Linked DNA regions of Homo sapiens. The protein of the gene in region 4 interacts with the protein of the main gene of each other region in a pairwise test. Each region holds a gene or a part of one and is shown on either strand. Other genes may lie near its edges.

What was found.
Region 1: the proteins of NCK1 (region 4) and TRAIP interact in binary tests that used the Homo sapiens proteins (3 or more experiments, as listed by UniProt).
Region 2: the proteins of NCK1 (region 4) and NHSL3 interact in binary tests that used the Homo sapiens proteins (3 or more experiments, as listed by UniProt).
Region 3: the proteins of NCK1 (region 4) and FYB1 interact in binary tests that used the Homo sapiens proteins (3 or more experiments, as listed by UniProt).
Region 5: the proteins of NCK1 (region 4) and SLC24A1 interact in binary tests that used the Homo sapiens proteins (3 or more experiments, as listed by UniProt).
Region 6: the proteins of NCK1 (region 4) and DLGAP1 interact in binary tests that used the Homo sapiens proteins (3 or more experiments, as listed by UniProt).
Region 7: the proteins of NCK1 (region 4) and STK38 interact in binary tests that used the Homo sapiens proteins (3 or more experiments, as listed by UniProt).

Annotation. Positions count from the first base shown.
Region 1 is NC_000003.12:49,828,101-49,830,332, forward strand, and holds the end of TRAIP (E3 ubiquitin-protein ligase TRAIP), read right to left. Parts: intron 1,969-2,232; coding exon 1,920-1,968; intron 1,667-1,919; coding exon 1,517-1,666; intron 1,409-1,516; coding exon 1,358-1,408; intron 1,126-1,357; coding exon 1,003-1,125; 3' UTR 501-1,002; downstream 1-500. UniProt on the Homo sapiens protein: E3 ubiquitin ligase required to protect genome stability in response to replication stress.
Region 2 is NC_000001.11:32,765,830-32,769,329, forward strand, and holds part of NHSL3 (NHS-like protein 3), read left to right. Parts: intron 1-1,957; coding exon 1,958-2,128; intron 2,129-2,232; coding exon 2,233-2,288; intron 2,289-2,822; coding exon 2,823-2,946; intron 2,947-3,500. UniProt on the Homo sapiens protein: Able to directly activate the TNF-NFkappaB signaling pathway.
Region 3 is NC_000005.10:39,108,158-39,111,563, forward strand, and holds part of FYB1 (FYN-binding protein 1), read right to left. Parts: intron 2,233-3,406; coding exon 2,199-2,232; intron 106-2,198; coding exon 74-105; intron 1-73. UniProt on the Homo sapiens protein: Acts as an adapter protein of the FYN and LCP2 signaling cascades in T-cells. May play a role in linking T-cell signaling to remodeling of the actin cytoskeleton. Modulates the expression of IL2. Involved in platelet activation.
Region 4 is NC_000003.12:136,865,208-136,868,707, reverse strand, and holds part of NCK1 (SH2/SH3 adapter protein NCK1), read right to left. Parts: intron 1-3,500. UniProt on the Homo sapiens protein: Adapter protein which associates with tyrosine-phosphorylated growth factor receptors, such as KDR and PDGFRB, or their cellular substrates. Maintains low levels of EIF2S1 phosphorylation by promoting its dephosphorylation by PP1.
Region 5 is NC_000015.10:65,628,438-65,631,937, reverse strand, and holds part of SLC24A1 (sodium/potassium/calcium exchanger 1), read right to left. Parts: intron 1-3,500. UniProt on the Homo sapiens protein: Calcium, potassium:sodium antiporter that transports 1 Ca(2+) and 1 K(+) in exchange for 4 Na(+). Critical component of the visual transduction cascade, controlling the calcium concentration of outer segments during light and darkness.
Region 6 is NC_000018.10:3,497,920-3,500,307, forward strand, and holds part of DLGAP1 (disks large-associated protein 1), read right to left. Parts: intron 1,476-2,388; coding exon 1,266-1,475; 3' UTR 1-1,265. UniProt on the Homo sapiens protein: Part of the postsynaptic scaffold in neuronal cells.
Region 7 is NC_000006.12:36,523,480-36,526,979, forward strand, and holds part of STK38 (serine/threonine-protein kinase 38), read right to left. Parts: intron 2,164-3,500; coding exon 2,112-2,163; intron 985-2,111; coding exon 862-984; intron 1-861. UniProt on the Homo sapiens protein: Serine/threonine-protein kinase that acts as a negative regulator of MAP3K1/2 signaling. Converts MAP3K2 from its phosphorylated form to its non-phosphorylated form and inhibits autophosphorylation of MAP3K2.

The DNA.
Region 1 (2,232 bases), about 87 Mb from region 4:
GATCACCTGAGCCTGGGAGGTTGAGGCTGCAGTGAACTGTGATTGTGCCACTGCACTCCAGCCTGGGAGACAGAGGGAGACCCTGTTGCAAAAAGAAAAAAAAAAAAAAGAAAGAAAGAAAAAGAAAGAAAAGAAAGAAAGTGCCTTTGCAGCCAAAAGTCAAAAGCTAGCAATTTGGCTGGTAGCGTTTAAACGTGGGTAGGAACGGAAGGTAGTGGTCGCTGGTTATTTGCTGTGAGTACACTGTATAGATAGATTTCCATTTACTCGTTCACTTTCCTACTTATGGCCTTTAGGCTGTGCCCAGGTTAGAGACTGTGAGAAAAGCTGCAGTGATCTCATTCTTTCTAGAGTCTTCCTGTGCCCCATGAGAAGGCATATGCCTAGGGAAGGAACTGCTGGATCTGAGGCTTGGCGATGTTCCTGCTTTAGAAAGTCATGCCAAACAGTTTTCTAAAGTGTTGGTGCAAATTTACACTCTCAGAACCAGGAAGAAGAGATTGTTTTTTTTTTTTAATTTTATTTTACATGAAAATCTTCCATCCTCTCCATACATCCCATGCTATCCTCCATTCCCCACCCTGCTTGGCCCAGGCTATGCCTAGAAGCAAGTCAAAGGCAGGTAGAAGCTTGGGCTGAGGCTGCCTGAGATGCCTCAAGCACTCTGGTCCACAGAGACAGTCAACAAGTGACCGTGGTCTCCAGGCCCAGAAAGAGTCTGACCACATCTGATCATGGCTATAAACAGGAGCCTGGCAACAGGAGCAGGACCTGCTGACAGGATCAGTGGGCTGGTCATGTCAGCTCCCAGTCGTAGGAGTGGGGCAGGGTGAGGGCAGGAAGAGCAGTCTCTGGGTGCCACACTCACCCTCACCTGTTTGTCTGCCCTTACACCTCAGGCTGGTCCCGAAAGTGGGGCTCTGTCCACAAAACCCCTGCCTGGACAGTCCTTGACCTACAAGTTGCAGGCATGTGTCTGGCCATTGGTCAGACTCACTGTTCTCACGACCACAGGAAGGTGTCCAGCTTGGCCTGGAAGAGAGAAGGCACTGTCTTCACCCTCACCCTCTGCTTAACCTTGGTCTTGGGCTTAACAGGCAATGGGCGGATCATGACTGTGTCAGTCTGGAGGAGCTGTCAAGGAAGAGGCATGGAGAAAGGACTGCAATGCAGGGCGAGAAAGGACTGCAATGCAGGGCAAGAAAGGCTCAGAGCCGGGGGTGGGCGGCGCTGATACACAGAATGAGGCCCAGCACTGCACACCTGAGGCTGTTGGCACTGGCAGGCTGGGGGTATAGGTGAGGCATAGTATGGGCTCCACAGTTCAGCTCAGCTCAACATCACAGGAAAAGGATACAGGCTGGATGAATTTTGTCCGGCCACCGAGCCCATCGAAGCCTGTCCTTACCTAGGGTGGAAGGAAGAGATGAGTGGGCCAGGCTAATGGGCTGGGGGGCTGGCCACCCATTTCTACCCAAGAGGGCTGGCTCCTGCCACTGTGGGAAGCCACACTCACCACATCTTTGCTGCAAGAGGACTCTGACCTGGGCCTCTTGGGCTGTTTCTGGCCTAGGATGGCATTCCGGACAAAAATAGGGAAGGCACCAACCAGTTCCTCATCTGGCTCTCCTGCACAGCTCTGGCCACCCAGTGAGAGCTGGGACTCCTGCAGGGAAGACCCCAGGGCCAGACTTGATGAGCTGGATGTCAGCAAAGGAGGGAGGGTAGTGGTGGTGGAACAAGATCAGGATCTCTGATGCCTCACTAGGAGGCAGGAGGGATAATGAGTAGAATCCCAAGGGTGGCTCCGAAGTACCTCAGTCCTGGACCAGGAGTGACAAGGCTCTGGCAAGACCGTGCCCTCCCAAAAGTCCAGTCCTGCCAAAGGTTAGACTGTGCTTCTTCTAGAAAGCTCTTACCTTCCTGGGGCCTTTGCATATCTTCTTGGGGACATCCTGAATTGGGGAGCTACAAGAATGAGAGAGAAGGCAAGGGGTAGGTAAGCAAGACATGGGGGCAGGTGAACCAGGCTCAGCACACGCCCCTTGGGGAGTTACCATGTGGCACTGCTGCTGCCATGCCTGCATTCTGGGCAAGGCACCTCAGTGATCCCACCCCAAGTGCAGGTCTGTTAACAGCTGGACAGCCACAGCCAGTAGGGTGGCAGAGACAGGGATGACTGGGGATGACTGGACCATGTCCCAATCCTGTGGCTTCCACTCAAGGCCAAAT
Region 2 (3,500 bases), on a different chromosome or scaffold from region 4:
GAGTGGGTGTGGCTTGGGGGGAGGGGAGGGATGCTCGATGCCTCCCTTTCCCAGACCCTTATGTAGAATGAGGAATCAAGGCTGGGCAAAAGTAATGGGGTGGGGCTGGGGGCTGATAATGAGGCCAGAATCTCCCATCCGGCTGTGCTTTTGTCCAGCCGCTTTGTTGCTGCCTTTGTCTGGGCCCTGCTTGTGGGTTGGGAGGATGGATCCAGGTGTCTCTGACCTTGAAGCCTGCAGCCCTCCCGTGAGACTTGCCTCCCTGCCGGGGTACCCACACTTTACTGGGTACAGCCTCCCAGTCAAGATGTACTAGCCTTTCCTAGTGTGCCGGGGAGGATGGGACGTGGGCGGCCCAGAAGAGAGGAGAGTAGTACCACTGGAAGTTGGGAAGCCTGCTCAGTGAAATCCTGTTTAGAGGCCTGGGAATGGAGAAGTTTTGGAGGGAGGGGCCTGTTCCTCCTTCCTTCTCCTAGGAATTGGGCTTTCAGACCTGGATTAAGACATAGGGACAAGAGTTTATTGGACTTTTGAGGGTTGGGGGCCCCTACTCTGAGTGTGATCCGGGAGTCCCCTCTGGGAACCTGGAGTTGAGTCCAGGGTCAGTCTGACTCCTACTGCTGGGTGACCTTAGGCAAGGCCTTGCCCCTTTGAACCGTTTCCCCACTTGTAAAATCTGGGGATCTCGGGCACTGGTCTGGTTGGATCTGTTGGGGGCCTCCTAGCTCTGACCTGTGGGATTCCTGCAGACTCCCTAGGGCAGGAGCTCTGGCTGTTGACGAATGGGCTGAGGGAGGAGGAAAGGCAGGTTTCTGAACTGAAGACCCTGCTCCTGGAGCATGGCCCTTTAAAGGGCTTGTTTTGTTCCCGTCCCTTTATAAGGTGTTACCAAGGTCACATGACCCTTCCAGCGCTTTTGCTTATGTTGTGGGTTTCATTTAAAGGGGGGGCTGGGGCTGCAAAGTGCTGACACAGCCCCCCATCCCCAGGATTAGATGGCCAGCCCCTCCACAGGCGGGGCTTGTAACAGGATCCTTTGTAATGGATCCCTGGCTCCTCTGCAACAGGGGCCAGGGCCAGGGCCAGGGCCTCCAGGAGAGGGGGATACCTGGGACTATTTCCCCAAGAGAGACTGGAGCTCCCTTGGGCGGGTGGAGGGGCCTGGGTCTTTCTTCTCCCCTCCCCTGCCCATCCTTCCACTAAGGGGCAGCCACATGGGTGAGTAGGGGACCCAGGAGGCTATCTCCTTGGTCTGCATCCCCCCTAGGATTTTCTGGGAATATGGTTGTAACTCATGCCAGCTGTCTCTCCTTCCTGATTTCCCGTGATATCTTCTTCCTGGACCTGGTTCAAGTGGTGGCATGAAAAGAGTGGTTTGTTTTCCTGTGAAGTGGGGTTTTGGGTATGGAGGCGAGAGCAATGTATTTACTATGGGCTATGTGTATACTCGGGATGTTTTTTGTGGGGCTCTGAGTGACGTGTGAGTACATAGTCGTGTGTATACTTGGTTACTGTTTGTGTATATACAGAGCAGGGACTGTGGGTGTTGTGTGTTTACGTGCGGGCTGGGTGTGCTTGGTGTGTGTACCTATGTGTGTTTATACTCGGATGCCCTTTGTTTATATACATGAATGACATCTGTGAGTGCTGTGTACGTACACAGTAGACCTGTGTACCTGTGTGCCCTGTGTGTGGGGCCTTATATGGGGCCCTTTGTGTGGTGTGGGTACTCAGATTTATGTACACTTGGGTGTAGTTTGTGTATATGGGGGCTGTGTGTGTTGAGTGTTTACTCCAGAACTGTGGGTTATGTGTCCAGACTGGGGAAGGGGGCATTGCTTGTATATGCAATGGCCGTGTGCAGTCTGGGGACCATGACTGCCCTTGCCGTGAGACCTGTGCCCCTGCAGGGCCCAGATGCCTTTACCTCATTTCCCTTCCTCCTCCCTCCTACTAGGCTCTGCCAAGGCTGAGAATGACAAACATCTAAGTGTAGGGCCTGGCCAGGGGCCAGGGTCTGCAGTGGATGAGCACCAGGACAACGTCTTCTTTCCCAGTGGGCGACCCCCCCACCTGGAAGAGCTGCACACTCAGGCCCAGGAGGGGCTCCGCTCCCTACAACACCAAGGTAAGCTTCCTCTCCACTCCCCTCCCCTCTCCTCCCTCCAGTGCTGCACTGTCAGCTGTCAAGGTCAGGGGCCTAACCCAACAGACCCTTCTGGTGTCTTCCAGAGAAACAGAAACTGAACAAGGGTGGCTGGGACCATGGAGACACCCAGAGTATCCAGGTGAGCCCTGCCTCCAGCTCAGTCCTGACTCTTCTCTACCTGCTTGACCCCTGGCAAGGATGTCTTGGAACATTTCTGGGTCTCAGTTTCTTTATCACAAAGGGCTACACTAAATGAACCCTGAGGGCTAGTTCAGGGTTGCTCAGTGCTAGGTGATGCTGGAGGGGATCTGTGACTCAAAAGTTCGAGTGGGAGGCTGGGCGAGGTGGCTTACACCTGTAACCCCAGCACTTTGGGACGCTGAGGTGGGCGGATCACTTGAGGTCAGGATTTTGAGACCAGCCTGGCCAAAGTGGTGAAACCCTGTCTCTACTAGAAATACAAAAATTAGCCAGGCATGGTGGGAGGGTACCTATAATCCCAGCTGCTTGAGAGGCTGAGGCAGGATAATCGCTTGAACTTGGGAGGCGGAGGTTGTGGTGAGCCAAGATTTCGCTACTGCACTCCAGCCTGAGCTGGATTTGTCTCAAAAAAAAGTTCCAATGGGGAGCCTTGAGGAGACAGCCCCACCCAGATCTCCTTCTACCCTGATAGTCCTCCCGGACGGGGCCGGATGAAGACAACATCTCCTTCTGCAGTCAGACCACATCCTACGTGGCTGAGAGCTCCACAGCAGAGGACGCGCTCTCCATCCGCTCGGAGATGATCCAGCGCAAAGGTGGATTCATGGGCAGGGGAGAGGGACAGTGGGCTCCATTGGGTCCCAGCATCTGTAGCTTCTTTTCCTCCTTATCCAGTGTTTCACCAGGCTCTCTGATTCAATGAATTCGGGAAACACAGTACCCTGTGTCCTCTTGCACATTCGTGATACACACTAACTATAAAGCAGTTAAGAGTTAGAAAATCTTGGCGGCCGGGTGCGGTGGCTCACGCCTGTAATCCCAGCACTTTGGGAGGTCGAGGTGGGCGGGTCACGAGGTCAGGAGATCGAGACCATCCTGGCTAACACGGTGAATGAAACCCCGTCTCTACTAAAAATACAAAAAATTAGCCTTGCCTGATGGCGGGTGCCTGTAGTCCCAGCTACTTGGGAGGCTGAGGCAGGAGAATGGCGTGAACCCAGGAGGTGGAGCTTGCAGTGAGCCGAGATTGCACCACTGCACTCCAGCCTGGTCGACAGTGTGAGACTCCATCTCAAAAAAAAAATAAAAAAAGAGTTAGAAAATCTTAACTGTTGGAAGCCTGGTGTAACTAACTAGTGCCAGCTGTGTG
Region 3 (3,406 bases), on a different chromosome or scaffold from region 4:
GCTATTTTTAGCATTTATAAAAACAGTAAATTCACTATGACTGTTCTCTAGGGTGGTACTACATAAGACTTACCATCAGCAATATCATCATAGATCTCTCCATCACTGTAAATGTAAAAAAAAATTTTTATTTTAAAGAAACTATGTTCTTGGCATTAGAGCAATATATAGAAGAATAGAGTAACAGTATAATTTTATAAGACACAATTAAGACTTTTAAGCATAGTATGCATTTATAAGTAGAAATAAATTTGATATTCATTATCTCTTCTTTCATTGACTTAATCTAGTCCTCTGTTTCATTTTACATACAGAATAATTAAAACATGCTTCAAGAGCATAGACTATGCCTTACTCATCTTTATAAGACATGTTTGTTAACAATGTACTAAACATCATGGTACAATACTCCCATTGGGGATGTTAATTCAAAGCTGCAATGGACTTTTATGTCTGTTAATATCAGATTCATACTTTCACTTGAATTTCGAATGGTGAATTAAATACAATAATAATTGGCATAGGAAATGGTTGCATCATTTTCACATGTTTTCTAATTATAACTCATACATATAATAAAATATATAAATATTAGTTACAGAATAAGTAGCCAAGATATGATTATTATGGTGATTCTTATGTAATTTTAAAACTATTACTTATGATTATAGGCAGCATCCATAATAGTAATTTTGGTACTTTTACACATTTTAGGTTTTGCCTGGCCCTGAATCTTTGTGATATTTTCTATCCGACAAACATACTGAATCCCTTCTATGTACCAGGAGACAAAAATTTGAGTAAGAGACAAGCTTTGCTTTTAAGTACCTTATAATCAAACAGGAGATTATATAAGAAATAAAAATAGAGAGCATTATAAACATGAACATTGCCTTGAAATGTAAGATATACTTCTAAAATTCAGAAATGTAGGGTGGCTTTGTCACTTAGACCAGAACTACTCTTTGCTGTACAATCTCTGTGCTTTATCATGGAAGCAGCAGCAGGCCCTTCAAACTGCTGCCAACTATGGCAGATGCTGTGAGTTCCCTATGTCTTCTGTTTGGATCTTTTCTCTGAGATGGAGGGAGGGTTTGGCTAACGGAAATCTCATCCAAATGCGAGCAGGACAGGTTTTTCTGTCATTTATACAATAAACATTTATTAAGTATTCGCTTCAATAGGTGGTGAACCAACAATTACTTACAGAGTATGCTTTCTAAATTCTCTCAATCAGCCTGTAATAATCACTGATGGAGATGTTGTCCTATTATTTGCCACACATTCTGTCCTTAAAATTTGTATCTTTCATAGAACAAAACCTATTGAAAGTCTCTTGCCTCCCACTGTGATTAATGTGCTCAGGAGAACAAAGGTATTATGATTATTTTTCTTTGGCCTTTACTAGTTTGCCAGCAAAGCTCTTCACACTGATTTGTGTTTTTCTGATTGGTGTCAGGTTGTTGATGGGTACACAGTTTGTGACTCCTTCTGGATCTTTTCATTGTGCTAAATTCTGTAAATCTTTGCATTGGCACGTGACCTAACCTGATAATGGAGTTCGTTTCTTGCACTGGGTTACTTGGGACAGAATCTTATGTTTCAGGGGACTCCAAAGGCACACTAGTACCACACTGTGACAGACTGTGACAATGTCTTATTCATAAGAATAGAAGAATCATTGATGACTGTCTTTTTTTCTGGCATGCTTCCATAAAAGGCAACATAGTACTCTACTATGCCTAGTGTGAGTGAAGCAAAGCCCTTAATTAAGGGCTAAATTATGAACTGTTAACAGGTGATATTAGCACCTACTATGAAGTCACTAATTGGTCCCAAATTAATTCCACTCAATCAATTGCATTAGCAAGTAAAATGCAAAATATTGATGAAAAGGTTACTGGCTTTGACATGTCTTCAGTGTTTGCTGAGAGCCTAATGAATATATAAAACTATTAACTATGAGCTGTACAATTTTAAATGAGAAGGGCTCCTCGCCTATTTAAAAGAGTAGCACTTCATGGAAACCTAAACTTTATTATGGATACTAACATGTTAACGTTAGTATAGCATATTGTTTTTAAATTTATTTATGATAGTTGAGTAGGTTACATTATTTAAGTAATATTATAAATATTTTAAAAAGAAAGGCACAAAATTCTTTTCACAAGCATAGTAGTAGAAGAAAATGGGCTTACTTGTCCGCTAGGTAACTCCGAAGGACATAACCATCTACGAAGGAAAAAGGAAATAAATTGTATCAATAATACAGGTTGAAAAATCTTTAGTACTTTTTTCAGGAAATCAAAACACAAGAGAGTAATCATAGTATATTGAATAATTGTATCTATCTCTGGAAATGACCCATTTTTCTTACTTGTGTCTACTTTTGTGTCCTTCCTTTCTTCTCCTTTTCTCCCTAACTTTTCTCTTTCTCCAGTATGTCTCTTTTTTCTCCAATTTCAACCTTTCCTCCTTTCCCCTTTAAATAAAAAAGCAACTTTTTTCATTAAGCTACTGTAGGCTGTAGCACAGAGTTCAGTGTGTTACCCCCATGATCCAGTTTTAGGAAGAATTTAGTAAGCATAGATTATAAAAGTCATTTATTGGTAAGTATTTTAAATACCACCAGATCTAAGACTTACTTTCTAAAATTTTATTATATTGAGCAGAGAGAGAACTGTATTCAACTCCCCTTTCAGATCCCAGCCAGCTATTGACTACTAGGGGGACTATGCATTGTAAATAGTCTCAAACAGGTCTCTTTTACTCTGTATGGAAGAAATTCCTCTACTGTTTTGCTATTGGACAGTATCAACATTTGCATTTCATCACTCATGGAGCAAAAGCATTATTGGAAGAGCACATACTATGGATTCTATGATGCCTGGTTAAGTAGAAAATAAGCCATATTTTATGCAAGAAAGCTAAGTTTTGTTGTTGTTGTTGTGTGAGGGGCACCTTATATTTGCCTCTCATTGTGCAAATGTTTCTCAGGAAAAATAGGAACTATTTTTCTTAAGAAAATGCCTGCTGATATCTAATTAATATTACTAATCTTTGGAATTGTTAGTTTTGTGTTAGTGCCTAAAATCTGTTGTATGCTTGAGATTAGTACCATTTATTGCTTCCTCAATACAATCTCTAAATAATTTCTCTCAGTGAGTCAATCTATTGGTTTTGGTCCACTTTAGATCTAATTTTAGTTCTGAATCAAAGCAAATGTGTTACAAATTATAAGGAGAAAGCTCATAAGCAAAAATTAATAATATAAATGATAAACTTACGTAAATGTATTGATGTCATATTGCCAATGATTAAACATGAAAATATTTTTTAAAAGTTGGAATCATAAAACTGAATTTATACATTAAAATTTAAGAAAATGAACTTTCCCTTGAAGTGT
Region 4 (3,500 bases):
AAAAGACAAACTAAATTGCAGCAGTAAAACCTGTAAGAGATTCATTTTTTAGCAGATGATAGAATTCAATGGTAAACACTGGCCAGGTGCGGTGGCTCATCCCTGTAATCCCAGCACTTTGGGAGGCCAAAGCAGGCTGATTAACTGAAGTTAGGAGTTGGAGATCAGCCTGGCCAACATGGTGAAACCCTGTCTCTGCTAAAAATACAAAAATTAGCCAGGCATGGTGGCAGGCACCTGTAATTCCAGCTACTTAGGAGGCTGAGGCAGGAGAATCCCTTGAACCTGGGATGCAGAGGGTACAGTGATCCGAGATTGCCCCACTGCACTCCATCCTGAGTGACAGAGCAGGACTCCGTCTCAAGAAAAAAAAAACTCAATGGTAAACATGACAATATTATTTTTGTTAATGGTGTTAATACACCTAACAAGTATAGGGGAAAGAAACTGTATATAGACTTTATATCATTGTTTAAATAATTTACAATGTAAGGCTGGGCATGGTGGCTCATGCCTGTAATTCCAGAACTTTGGGAAGCCAAGGTGAGCGGATCACCTGAGGTCAGGAGTTTGAGACCAGCCTGGCCAACATGGTGAAACCCATCTCTACTAAAAATACAAAATTAGCCAGGTGTGGTGGCAGGTGCCTGTGATCCCAGCTCCTCAGGAGGCTGAGGCAAGAGAATTGCTTGAACCCGAGAGGCGGAGGTTGCAGTGAGCCGAGATCATGCTGCTGCACTCCAGCCAGGGCAAAAACTGCGAAACTCTGTCTCAAAAAAAAAAAAATTTACAATGTAAATATGAAGGTTCCCCTGCCCTGAAGTTTTCAATCTATGAGAAGGCATAAATACACAAAATGCAAAATAATGTGAGGCAAATAAGGCAAAATTACAAGAGATGAGAAGTAGTATGGTTTCATAAACACACAGAACTTGCGTCAGAAGATCAAGGGTTGAGTCTTTGTTCTGCCCCCATCACTAAATGTTTGAATTTTGGTGCATCTAGTCTATTTGTATTTCAGTTTCCTTATCTGTAAAACACAAGGTTGGATTCCAACATTCCAGCAATAATGCTCTATAATTCTATGATTCAAGTCCACACAACATTAAAAACCAAGGGAATACTAAAATAATAAGGGGTATGGGTTTAAAGGAAAGCAACAGACCAGGCACAGTGGCTCACCCCTATAATCCCAGCACGTTGAGAAGCCAAGGTGGGAGGATCGTTTGAGGCCAGGAATTCAAAACCAGTCTGAACAACACAGTGAGACCCTATCTCTACAAAAAAAAAAAAAAAAAAAAATTAGCCAGACATTGATGCACACCTGTAATCCTGGCCTTTGGGAGGTTCAAGTTACAATGAGGAGCTGTGATCAGGCCACTGTACTCCAGCCTGAGCAACAGAGCGAGATCCTGTCAAAAAAGAAAGAAGAAAGAAAGAAAGAGAGAGAGAGACAGACGGACGGACAGACGGATGGATGGACGGAAGGAAGGAAGGAAGGAAGGGAAAAGAAAGAAAAGAAAGAAAGAAGGAAGGAAGGAAGGAAGGAAGGAAGGAAGGAAGGAAGGAAGGAAGGAAAGAAAGAAACAAAGAAAGAAAGAAAGAAAGAAAGAAAGAAAGAAAGAAAGAAAGAAAGAAAGAAAGAAAGAAAGAAAGAAAAGCAAGCAACATAGGGAACAGGAAAAACATTTGGAAGACTGCACCAAAGGACCAAAAGCGAAAATTCAACAAATTTTACTTCATTTGCTACTTGGTAATTTAGGAGAAAAAAAAAATTTTAAAGACTAGGCAAACTGGACGGGCACAGTGGCTCACGCCTGTAATCCCAACACTTTGGGAAGCCGACGCATGTGGATCACCTGAGGTCGGGAGTTCAAGACCAGCCTGGCCAACATGGTGAAACCCCATCTCTACTAAAAATACAAAATTAGCCAGGCGTGGTGGCATGCACCTGTAATCCTAGCTACTCGGAAGACTGACACAGGAGAATCACTTGAACCAAGGAGACGGAGGTTGCAGTGAGCCAAGATGGTGCCACTGCACTCCAGCCTGGGTGACAGAGTGAGACGCCTCAAAGAAAAAAAAAAAGAAGAAAGAAAGAGGCCAGGCACAGTGGCTCACACCTGTAATCCCAGCACTTTGGCAGGCTGAGATGTGTAGATCACCTGAAGTGAGGAGTTTAAGACTGGCCTGACCAACACGGAGAAACCCCGTCTCTACTAAAAATACAAAATTAGCCAGGCATGGTGGCGCATGCCTGTAGTCCCAGCTACTAGGGAGGCTGAGGTAGGAGAATCGCTTGAACCCGGGAGGCAGAGGTTACGGGGAGCCGAGATCGCACCATTGCACTCCAGCCTGGGCAACAGAGCGAGACTCTGTCTCAAAAAAAAAAAAAGAAAGAAAGAAAGAAAAAGGAATGATACGAAGGTACAAAAATACAAAGAGTAAATAAGAATCAGAGATTGGTTTGGTTAGAGTGGACAGCTCCTATAAAGAAATAGTGCTGGCACTGATTAAAAAAAAAGAAAGAAATAGTGCTGGCCCCAGAAAAACAGGTTTGAGCAGACTGTTATTAGGCTATGAATTCTGAACTATACTCTGAAGATAACAGAGAGTTATCACTGGTTTCCGAAAAGTGAAGGATGTGTTTGAAGCATAATTCTAAGATTTAGGAAGACATACTAAGTAGAGAGAAAAATCAAGCAAAAAACCCAATTAAAGGCTAGTGAGTAGTTCAAAGATAAAAATGGCTGGCAAAAATCAGCCAATATTGTTACACGCATAGAGATAAAACCAAAGTTTGTGTCTGGGTAATTGAAAGCATGGTAATGTCACCAAAACAAAGTCAGCATATGGAATCAGTTTTGAAGGGAAGACTATAAATTCTATCTTCATTAGAGTTTAAGGTGAGGATCAGCCAGACATAAAGTTTCCTTAAATCTTTAAATGTCATATTTAGCCTTGTTGTCTTCCTAACATCACAGTATTTATAGAGAATTTGTTAACTGCTCAGTGATTTCAAAAGTTCCCTTCAATTTTACTTATTAATGAAATAATCATTTAATTTTCTAGTGCAGATAAAGAACATTTGGTATTTTTCTATATTATAAAGGTAAATTCTAAAAATTATTAAACCATGATTTTAAAAATGAACTGTATCTGTATTCATTAAGTCAAGTCTTCCTGACAAGTGATTTATAATAATCACATCAAATATACCTTCAGCTTTGAAAAACACATGGTGAAAAAGTAAAATAAGACAAAGTAAAAGTACAAAGCAATGAAAATGTAAAACTCTAGAAAATTTTTGAAAAATGAATATAGGCCAGCCACGGTGGCGCACACCTGTAATCTCAGCACTTTGGGAGGCGGAGGTGGGCAGATTGCTTGAGGTCAGGAGTTCGAGACCAGCCTTGCCAACATGGTGAAACTCCGTCTCTACTAAAAATACAGGCCGGGCGTGGTGGCTCATGCCTGTAATCCCAGCACTTTGGGAGGCC
Region 5 (3,500 bases), on a different chromosome or scaffold from region 4:
ATCACTTGAACCTGGGACGCGGAGGTTGCAGTGAGCTGAGATCGCGCCACTGCACTCCAGCCTAGCAACAGAGCGAGACTCTGTCTCAAAAATAAAAATAAAATAAAATCCAAACTCTGTATCTGATGCACAGGGCCCTGCATGGAGTATTAGGCTGGTACAAAAGTAATCGCGGTTTTTGCCATTAAAAGCGAAACTAATGACAAAAACCACAATTACTTTTGCACCAAACTAATAGCTCCCACCCTCTTCTCCAGTGGTATTCTGTACCCCTCTCCCTATTACTCACTAACCACACTGGCCTTTATTCTTTCCTCTAATGTGCCAAGCTCTCTTTTCCAGCTCTGAGCTTTTGCAAATGCTGTTCCCTCTTCCAGGAATTCTTGTCACTGGCTATGGGGTGGTTTCCCTTCTCATTCTGCAGATCTCTACTTGAAATTCTCCTCCAAGAGACCTCCTACACTCTCCCTCACTAAAGGGGGCCCACTATTATTTACAATCACTCTCTATCACATGCCCTGTTTATTTCCTTTATAGTACTTGTCATATGCTGAAATTAACATCTTAGTTTATTTTACTTGTTTTTCATCCATATGTCCACTCCCCCACACTAAAAAAAATTCTGTTGGTTGCATATTTCCAATTAATTCAGGTGGCAGAGCATCTAGAAATTATGCTGTTCTTTGTAGAACACCATGAATATCTAATTTCATATTGAATCCCATCATATGCACTAGGAGAAAATATTACTGGGTTGTATGAATGCATGTAAAATCTCAACTACAAGCTTACACATATCCATGAAAACAACAAACTGTTAAACTAGATGTGATCAGATGTTTGAGTTTTTCTGTTAATATTTGTTTATTTCTCATGCATTCATTTTGTCATCTGCTGGCACCCACTAGCAGGTGAACATTGAAAGCTTTTTTTTTTTAATATTGTGGTTAGGTTTTAGTTTTGTTTTGAGACAGAGTCTTGCTCTGTTGCCCAGGCCGGAGTGCAGTGGCATGATGTCAGCTCACTGCAACCTCCGCCTGCTGGGTTCCAGCAATTCTCCTGCCTCAGCCTCCCGAGAAACTGCAATTACAGATGCGTGCCACCACGCCTGGCAAATTTTTGTATTTTTAGTAGAGATGAGGATTCACCATGTTGGCCAGGCTGATCTTGAACTCCTGACCTCAAGTGATCCACCCACCTCGGCCTCCCAAAGTGCTGGGATTACAGGCGTGAGCCACCGCACCTGGCCAAAAGATTAAGAAAATTTTATGAAGAGAAACCCTAAAATTGAGCATTCAACTCTTACCATCTTTTCCTGACAATTAGAGGGAAACTGATTATTATTCAAAGAGTCGAAGAAGGGAACCCCTCAGCCCAGGCTACAGTGGGCCCTTTGGCAGCACAGTGAGTTCCCTGGAGTCTAGTGTAGGCAGGACCCACAGAGGCAGGGGGGGTTCTCGGCGGCTGCTTCCTGCACACAGCCCCTTGCCTCCAAAGCAGGTAGCTGGCTCTATAGGTCACTGATAGAAGCCCTTAGGATAAATGCCAACCCTGATAAGAAAAGGGAGGACCAGCCCCTAAACAGGCAGCAGGTTTGTCTGCTTGAGGTCTTGTTGATTGGTTTAATTTTTAAAATCCTGCCAGGGACCAGGCGTGGTGGTGGCTCACACCTGTAATCCCAGCACTTTGGGAGGTCAAGGTGAGAGGATTGCTTGAAGCCAGGAGTTTGAGACCAGCCTGAGTAACATAGTGAGACACACCTCCATATCCTCCCCCTCCCCACCTTCTCTACAAAAAGTTTTTTAAATTAGCTGGGTGTGGTGGCATGCACATGTAGTCCCAACTACTCAGGAGGCTGAGGAGGGAGACTGCCTGAGTCTGGGAGGTCAAGGCTGTAGTGAGTCGTGCTTGAGCCACTGCACTCCAGCCTGGGTGACAGGGCAATACCTCATCTCAAAAATAAATAAAAAAGTCCTTCCAGGATGAAAATAGCCCCCAGTGCATTTAGGAGAGAATAGCAGACTTTTCCCCAGGAGTATTCTCGAGGGAAGAGTGTGGGTACGGAGCTTCCAAAGGAGCCCCAACTAGGCTCTTTTCTCTGCTTTGCATCCCTTTTTGCCATTGGCTTTCCACAGGACTGTCTTGCTAATCATACACCTCATGTAGATGGCTGGTGCTTCCTGGCTAATCTAGTCAAGTATAAAGAAGGGCCCCTGCTGTCCTTCAAATACCAATAATGCTTTTCAGCCAGCCTAGCGCCTCTGCTTTGCTGTCTGTTGGCTTTCTGTGACTATGCATGGTCAAGGCAGGTCAGAGATTTATCATTTTTGGCCAGAACAAATACACTGAGAGCTTCAAAACCAAGTATACTTGAAAACTAAGTTTCAGAGAGACAGCCTGTGTTCAGAGTTAGACTGTGTTGATAACTATGCAAACATTTACCATTTCCTTACTGGGGTCATAAAAGGCATCCTCAAACCAATATATGTCAATCTGACGATGTTGTCCAAAATATTTTTAGCTTTGAATTTTTTTCAGCCAGTATCAAAAGTGAGACTCTAAAATACTTACTATATGTCTATGTCAAATACTAAGTCCTTTATTTTTTTCTGGAAATATTCTTAAGTAAATTCTGATTAGAATCACTCCTAAAACACCATTATCCTGATTCTAGATACTCAGGGCAGAATAAACGGTAAAGTGAAAGATGCTCCAGCTCAGAAACTCAACAGCTATCAGGTGGGTGAATATCCAGTAATAAAATGGATTGTTCTCCGCTGATTGTATGTTTCCAAGTTGCTCAGGAAGAAGAATACCTGCAAGTATGTTGCTCTTACTAAAATACCACGTGGCCATTCCAATTAGTTTATTTATTATCTGTAGCTGCTTTCACACTACAAGGACAGAGTTCAGTAGCTTTGACAGAGACTATATGGTTTGCAAATCCTAAAATATTTACTGTCTGGCCCTTTACCGAAAAAGTTTGCCAACTTCTACATAGCTCATCCATTCACTTTACAGACGAGCAACCTAAGTCCTGTTTGAAAAGCAAAGTGGCTTTGTAGCACTTTGCACAGGGTTCACTTCATTGCAGTTAATTTTCTCTAGGCTTGTCCCTTCTACTGGATACAATCTTTTTATTTCCCACAGTGGCTTTCATTTAACTTAATAATAATGGTTTGTTGTATTGCATTGACTTGCCCAGGGAAACAGGAATAGTCAGCAATGGAACCTGGCTTAAAACCCAGATATCGTGATTCATGATCAATGGTAAGGATCACCAAGTAGCTGTGTAACTTTGGCTGAGTAATTATCCTCTCTGAGCTTCAGTTTCCTCACCTGCAAGATGAAGGTAATCCATTCCTTGTATGGTTTTATGAGAAATGTTAAGACAATGTATGTATGGAATAGGCTCTCCGTAAGCATGGATTCTCAACCCCTGACTCCTTTGTCTCACTAAACTAGAGTTCTGGAACTTTTAGGATTACCTGAGGAAACTG
Region 6 (2,388 bases), on a different chromosome or scaffold from region 4:
GACAGCGGCAGCTCTTTTGAATGAGGCAGCATGTCTATTGGGGCAAAAATTTATTTTAGCCATTTGACACAGGACAGAATCCTATGCTAGGTATTACTGGACTCTGCAGTAGTGAGAGGAGATGAAAGGAGAAAATATATCTGAAATACGAACTACTTGGGTTAAAATAGACGGATGTGTAGCATTCAAAGGGATGGTAGGAAAACCCAAACTCTTCTCCAAAAACAGCCTTGCTGCCATTTACAGCGCTTTATAAGCAGATATGTACTTATATATGTGGAATCAGGTAGGCCCACCTGGATGGACACTTAACAAATTAATAGAACCAACACTTTCCCTTTAAAAACAGCCGCCACGACAACAATATAAATATACACAGTACAATAAGAGTTGAGAAAACATTTCAGGTCTAGATTTTCTTAATAATAGAACAAAAAAATCCCTTATGTAGTATACTAAACCATCAGTGCCTCCTTTGCCTTGCTTCATGTTATTGCCTTTCAGAATAGATTAATTTCCCTGAAAGATCGAATTTACAATCTTCTGCTGATTGAGACATTTGAAGCTGTGATTGATGAAGTAACAGTGAGGCAGTTTGTGCAGCTGTGAGTGTGCAGGTGCCCCCAGCACCTGCAGATTTCGCTTCTCCCATCCTTGCTACACATCCAGGTCCCCCACCCCCAGGCCAGGCTTGGTCCCCTCTCTCTGTGTCCCTCATGGATTCCAGTGAGATGGTGTGATTTCTGAGGTTGGGAATAAAGTGCTCCATCTGCTTTTTTAAAAGAATAACCATTTAGGGGAAATAAAGGGAATCGGAGGCCTAGTTTCTTTCACGTGGAAGACGGTAAGTCCCAAAGGATCACCCTGTGATACTGGATTTCTGAAATACCCTATGGTTTTATATTGCTGAACAGACTAGCTCGAGAGAACTGAGGACGGCGGGTGACCTAAAGGCATCACTTCTACACAGGTGGGTTTGGCTTTGCCCAGAAAATAAAGGGTTGGATCTCAGTATGAGGCAGGGCGACGGCATCAGGACAGGGGGCGAAGCTCGGTGAAGAAGGAGATGGGCAAACGGGTACGGGAAGTGGGGGGCTGAGGGGGGCCCGGGGGGCGGCTCCTGCGAGGTGGACAACTACACCGCGACAGTGGAAGTCACCGAGCTCGGGAGCGGACGGGCTCGGAGGGGGAGAGGCAGCCGGCAGAGGAGCGGCCGGGGGAGGAGGGGACAGATGCTTGGCGGCGGCGGCCGGGCTGCGGGGCGCTCAGAGCCGGGTCTGCGCCTCGGGGATGTAGATCTCGATGCTCTCGGCGCTCTCGGTGGCCGAGTTCTGGCGGACGGACGCGGCGCGCTTGGCGGCCATCAGGCGCTTGCGGGCCTCCTGGCGCTGCGAGCTCTCCAGCGAGCGCTCCCGGATCAGCGGCGCGGGGCCCTTCGCCGGCTTCTTTGGCACTGGAGGAGGGGCCCTTCTCTCCTGATCAAAGCAGAAGGTTCAGGACATTACACAGCTTCTCAGGACAAGCTTGGGAAAAACTGGGATAGGTCAGTAGTTAGAACACACAGTTTTTTACCTAGGGGTGGTTAGTTCTGATCTGCACACTGCATATCTACTTTTTTCTTCATTATTCTGGCTTGGGCATTCAAAAGATGCAGAAAAAAAAAAATCCCGGTAAGCTTAAGGCCCAGGGTAAGGCTGGGTTGCAGAACTAGGTCTCTCCAAGGGAAGGAAGTGGGTATTTTAAAGGCCCCCTGCGGAAAGCCTGCGGCTCCCAGCACATTGAGTGCGGTTCTCTCTGGAGACTCCAGACTCCTCCTGGTGCCAGAGATGGGCCAGGAAGCAGCGGCTGCAGCAGCATCTTAGAACCCCTGCATCCCCTCTAAGGATGCAAGTCACCGGGTGCAAGCTTGGTTCAGAGCTTAAAAACATCTCCGCTCTGTCCCCGGCCCGCCCACCGTCCCCTTCCCACCAAACCTAAATAAACAGAGGAGGAAGAAGAGATATCAGATTGTGTTCTTTAGCTTTGTTGGTGCTACACCAGGTTAGACCCTTTTGCACACCACACACGAACACACAAGCAATATACAATATACAGGGTCACGGGAGAGGGAGGCCATTGATATTTCCTACACTCGAGAGTTAATTAAGTCAGTTCCAAGGTGACTCTGACTAGGGGCCTCGGGATAACTGTGGTGGCCCAGGAAGCAATTCCAATCACAGGGGCAGAAACTGTGCCATGAAAAGTTGACACAGGATGAAAGAGGTCATTCCTCTTATCAGCAGCAAACTATGAAATGGGCGGATATTTTCAATGCCACTGCAAAAACAAAAGACAGTCATCTCTTTGGCATTAAAAAAAATGCAGCAGGAAAGAATGGCGTCTAGACCA
Region 7 (3,500 bases), on a different chromosome or scaffold from region 4:
TCGAACTCCTGACCTTGTGATCCGCCCGCCTTGGCCTCCCAAAGTGCTGAGATTACAGGAGTGAGCCACCGTGCCTGGCCCCGGGGTACCAGGTTTTAATAATATACTGCTCCTTTTATACTTGCAATTATTGCGTCAGTAGGTCATCCAGTTTGGGCATTTTTCATTAACAGGAATGACCTTGCATGGGCTCTTTCAAGCTCTCCCCAACAGATTGCTCTTGTGCCCAAGCAGGATCATTTCCAAGAATTGCGGGGACAAAGTCGCAAATGCTTTCAACTCTCCACCACTACCTATATAACTCCTTTCTGTAAATCCTCCCTCCTAGGGTCATCTTTTTAGAGCTGTATCAATCTGGTGGGGAGAAATAAAGGGTGGAGATACACTATTAGTTTCCTTCTCGAGAGGCAGTGCAGTACTGGGAAAAGCAAGCTCTTTGAGTTCAGGAAGTAGAGCCCAACTTTTGGTCCCAGTACTCAATGGCTGTGTGATAACAAGAGACATTATATATACCTTTAGAGTCTTAATTTCACCATCTATAAAATGGGTTACTGTCCTGATTATGGGAAAAAAGCAGCCTGTAAATAATAAATGTTGATTTCCTTCTACCTTTCAACTCTCCCCCTAAGTCAATATTTAAACACCAACACCATCTCTGGCAAAACAGAGAACAGAGATCTGGGACTGCGGAGAGAAGAAAAAGAGAAAGCAGACAGACAAAGCAATTAGGATGTGGGGCTGGCATGCCTGACTCATTTAATTCCATATATTTGTTATATCAACAATCATGACTTAATGGTATGTTAGAAGCTTTGAAGTTTTGCAATATTTTTCTACTTGACAAGTAGCTGTGATTTTTACCTCACCAAATGCTCCTCTGCCTATTACTTTTAAGGACTCAAAATCTTCCAATCCAAGTCTTGTTCTCTTCAAACGAAGAAACTCTGTTTCCTTCCGAGCATGTGCTGATCTCCGGAGTCGTTTCTAATATTTAAATAAAAAAGGGAGGAGACGGGAAGGAACTGAAATTCTGAAACTCTGTAACAAGTCATGTTTGTGACTTACCCAGCTAGAAAACAGGTCCAAGTGGACTAAGGATAATCTTTTCACATATGAAATCACCCCAGAAGGATCCTTAAGAGGTCACTTCTCCCTTTCCTGGCATTTAGACACAACATCCAAGCCACACTGAACAGATGGGTGCCTCCTCTGGGAACTCTGACTAACCTACTTCAGCAATCCACTATCCTAACATTTTTGGTGAAGGGAGGGATAAATAATCAACAATATTTTCCTTTATCCTGTTTAATATAAATTAAAAATGTGTTCTTATCTTTCCCTCTGGCTTAAACACTGTATACTCTAACTTTCTGTTATTTCTACAAGTATTGGGTATTTTTCACCACCGTCCTGGGTTCTGCAAGCCAGTCCTATTTTTGAAGGCATTTCCACTACCATTTCAGTTCCTTGCACAGTCCCTTGTTAACTATATTTTCTCCTACTGTATCTGTGGGCACTGGGTGGAAGGGCTGATTTGAGATGGATATTTTGCCTTAATAAAGATTTCAGGAACATGACACACCGGGGCCTGTCGGGGCATGGGGGGAAAGGGAGGGAGAGCATTAGGACAAATACCTCATGCATGCGGAGCTTAAAACCTAGATGACAGGTTGATAGGTGCAGCAAACCACTATGGCACATATATACCTATGTAATAAACCTGCATGTTCAGCACACGTATGTATCCCAGAAAAAGTAAAATAAATAAATATTTCAAAAATTTGCCCTACTCCTACGGAGACTTTTCAGTGAATTCTATAAAAATGCTACAACTTGCTCTTTTAAAATTTAATTTGATTTCATCCCTGCTTTCTCTTGGAATTCTAAATCTAGTTTACTATAACTGCATCTAGAGAAGCCTTCCTCTCCTAGGTACTTAATAATTAATCTGTCCCTCTGAATTAACACCCAAATCCGGAAGCACACTACCCCTCAAGTTCCTCTGTTATTGAGCCAAAACCCTTCTCATGTGTACCAAGGCTAACAACTCACTGGACAAGATACAACCTGCCACGCTGGGTTTTAAGGAAAACATTGCCAATATTAATTACCTCCTCATCTTTTAGGCCTTCTTCTTCCATCACCTTTTCTAACTTCTTTTGTCTAAAACAAACAAAAACAAAAGACATGAAATCACATCTGAATGATAACTTTCTGAAAATTCTGTAACTTAATACTGTAGTAGATTTTTAAAAATGACACAAACAGGTAAATCTCAAAATGTCTCATTAAAACAAAAAAAATTAAGTTACTAAGACAAGTAAAAAGATTTCCATCCTTTGTTAGGCCTACTTTTTTTTGGCGGGGGGAGGGGGGCAGGTTGCGAGGAGAGGAGACAGAGTTTTGTTCTGTCACCCAGGCTAGAATGCAGTGGCGCAATCTCAGCTCACTGAAATCTCCACCTCACAGGCTCAAGCAATCCCACCTCAGCCTCCCAAGTAGCTAGGACTACAGGCGCGTGCCACCATACCTGGCTAATTTTTAAATTTTTTGTAGAAATGAGGTCTCATTATATTGCCCAGGCTGGTCTCAAACTCCAGCCTGACCTTCCAAAGTGTTGCGATTACAGGTGTGAGCCACCATGCCCCGCCCTTAGGTCTACATTTTTTAAAAGACTGTCTAAGATGTTAATGCAACAAAGACTCTTGTTTCAAAAAAATGTCCTCTCTTGGTTTTGGGTGTTTTTTTTTTTTTTTTTTTCCAGTTATTTCCTCCTTACCAAACCACAAAACAGCTGGTATTTGATAAACTCTTATATCATGCTGTTTCTTTCCCTCTCTCTGACTGAAGTCTACTTCCTTTATTTCTGCATCTTCCTCCTCTTCCCTGCCATGAGGAAAGGGTAACAAACAACAAAGTTAAAAGCAGAATTTGGAAATTTAAGGGGAAAAAGTGATCAAAAAGGTGACTGGCACCACTATCAAAACTCCATATATCAGGCTGGGTGTGGTAGCTCACGCCTGTGATCCCAGCACTTTGGGAGGTGAGGCAGATGGGTCACTTGAGGTCAGGAGTCCAAGACCAGCCTGGCCAACATGGTGAAACCCCATCTCTACTAAAAATATAAAAATTAGGCCAGGTGCAGTGGCTCACGCCTGTAACCCCAACACTTTGGGAGGCCGAGGCGGGTGGATCACTTGATGTCAGGAGTTCGAGACCAGACTGGCCAACATGGTGAAACCTGGTCTGTACTAAAAATGCAAAAATTAGCCAGGCATGGTGGCATACCCTGTAATCCCAGCTACTTGGGAAGCTGAGACAGGAGAATCACTTGAACCCAGGAGGTGGAGGCTGCAGTGAGCAGAGATCACACCACTCACTGCACTCCAGCCTGGGTGACAGAGTGAGACCCTGTCTCAAAAAAAACAAAAAGGCCGGGCGTGGTGGCTCACGCCTGTAATCCCAGCACTTTGGGAGGCTGAGGAGGGTGGATCATAAAT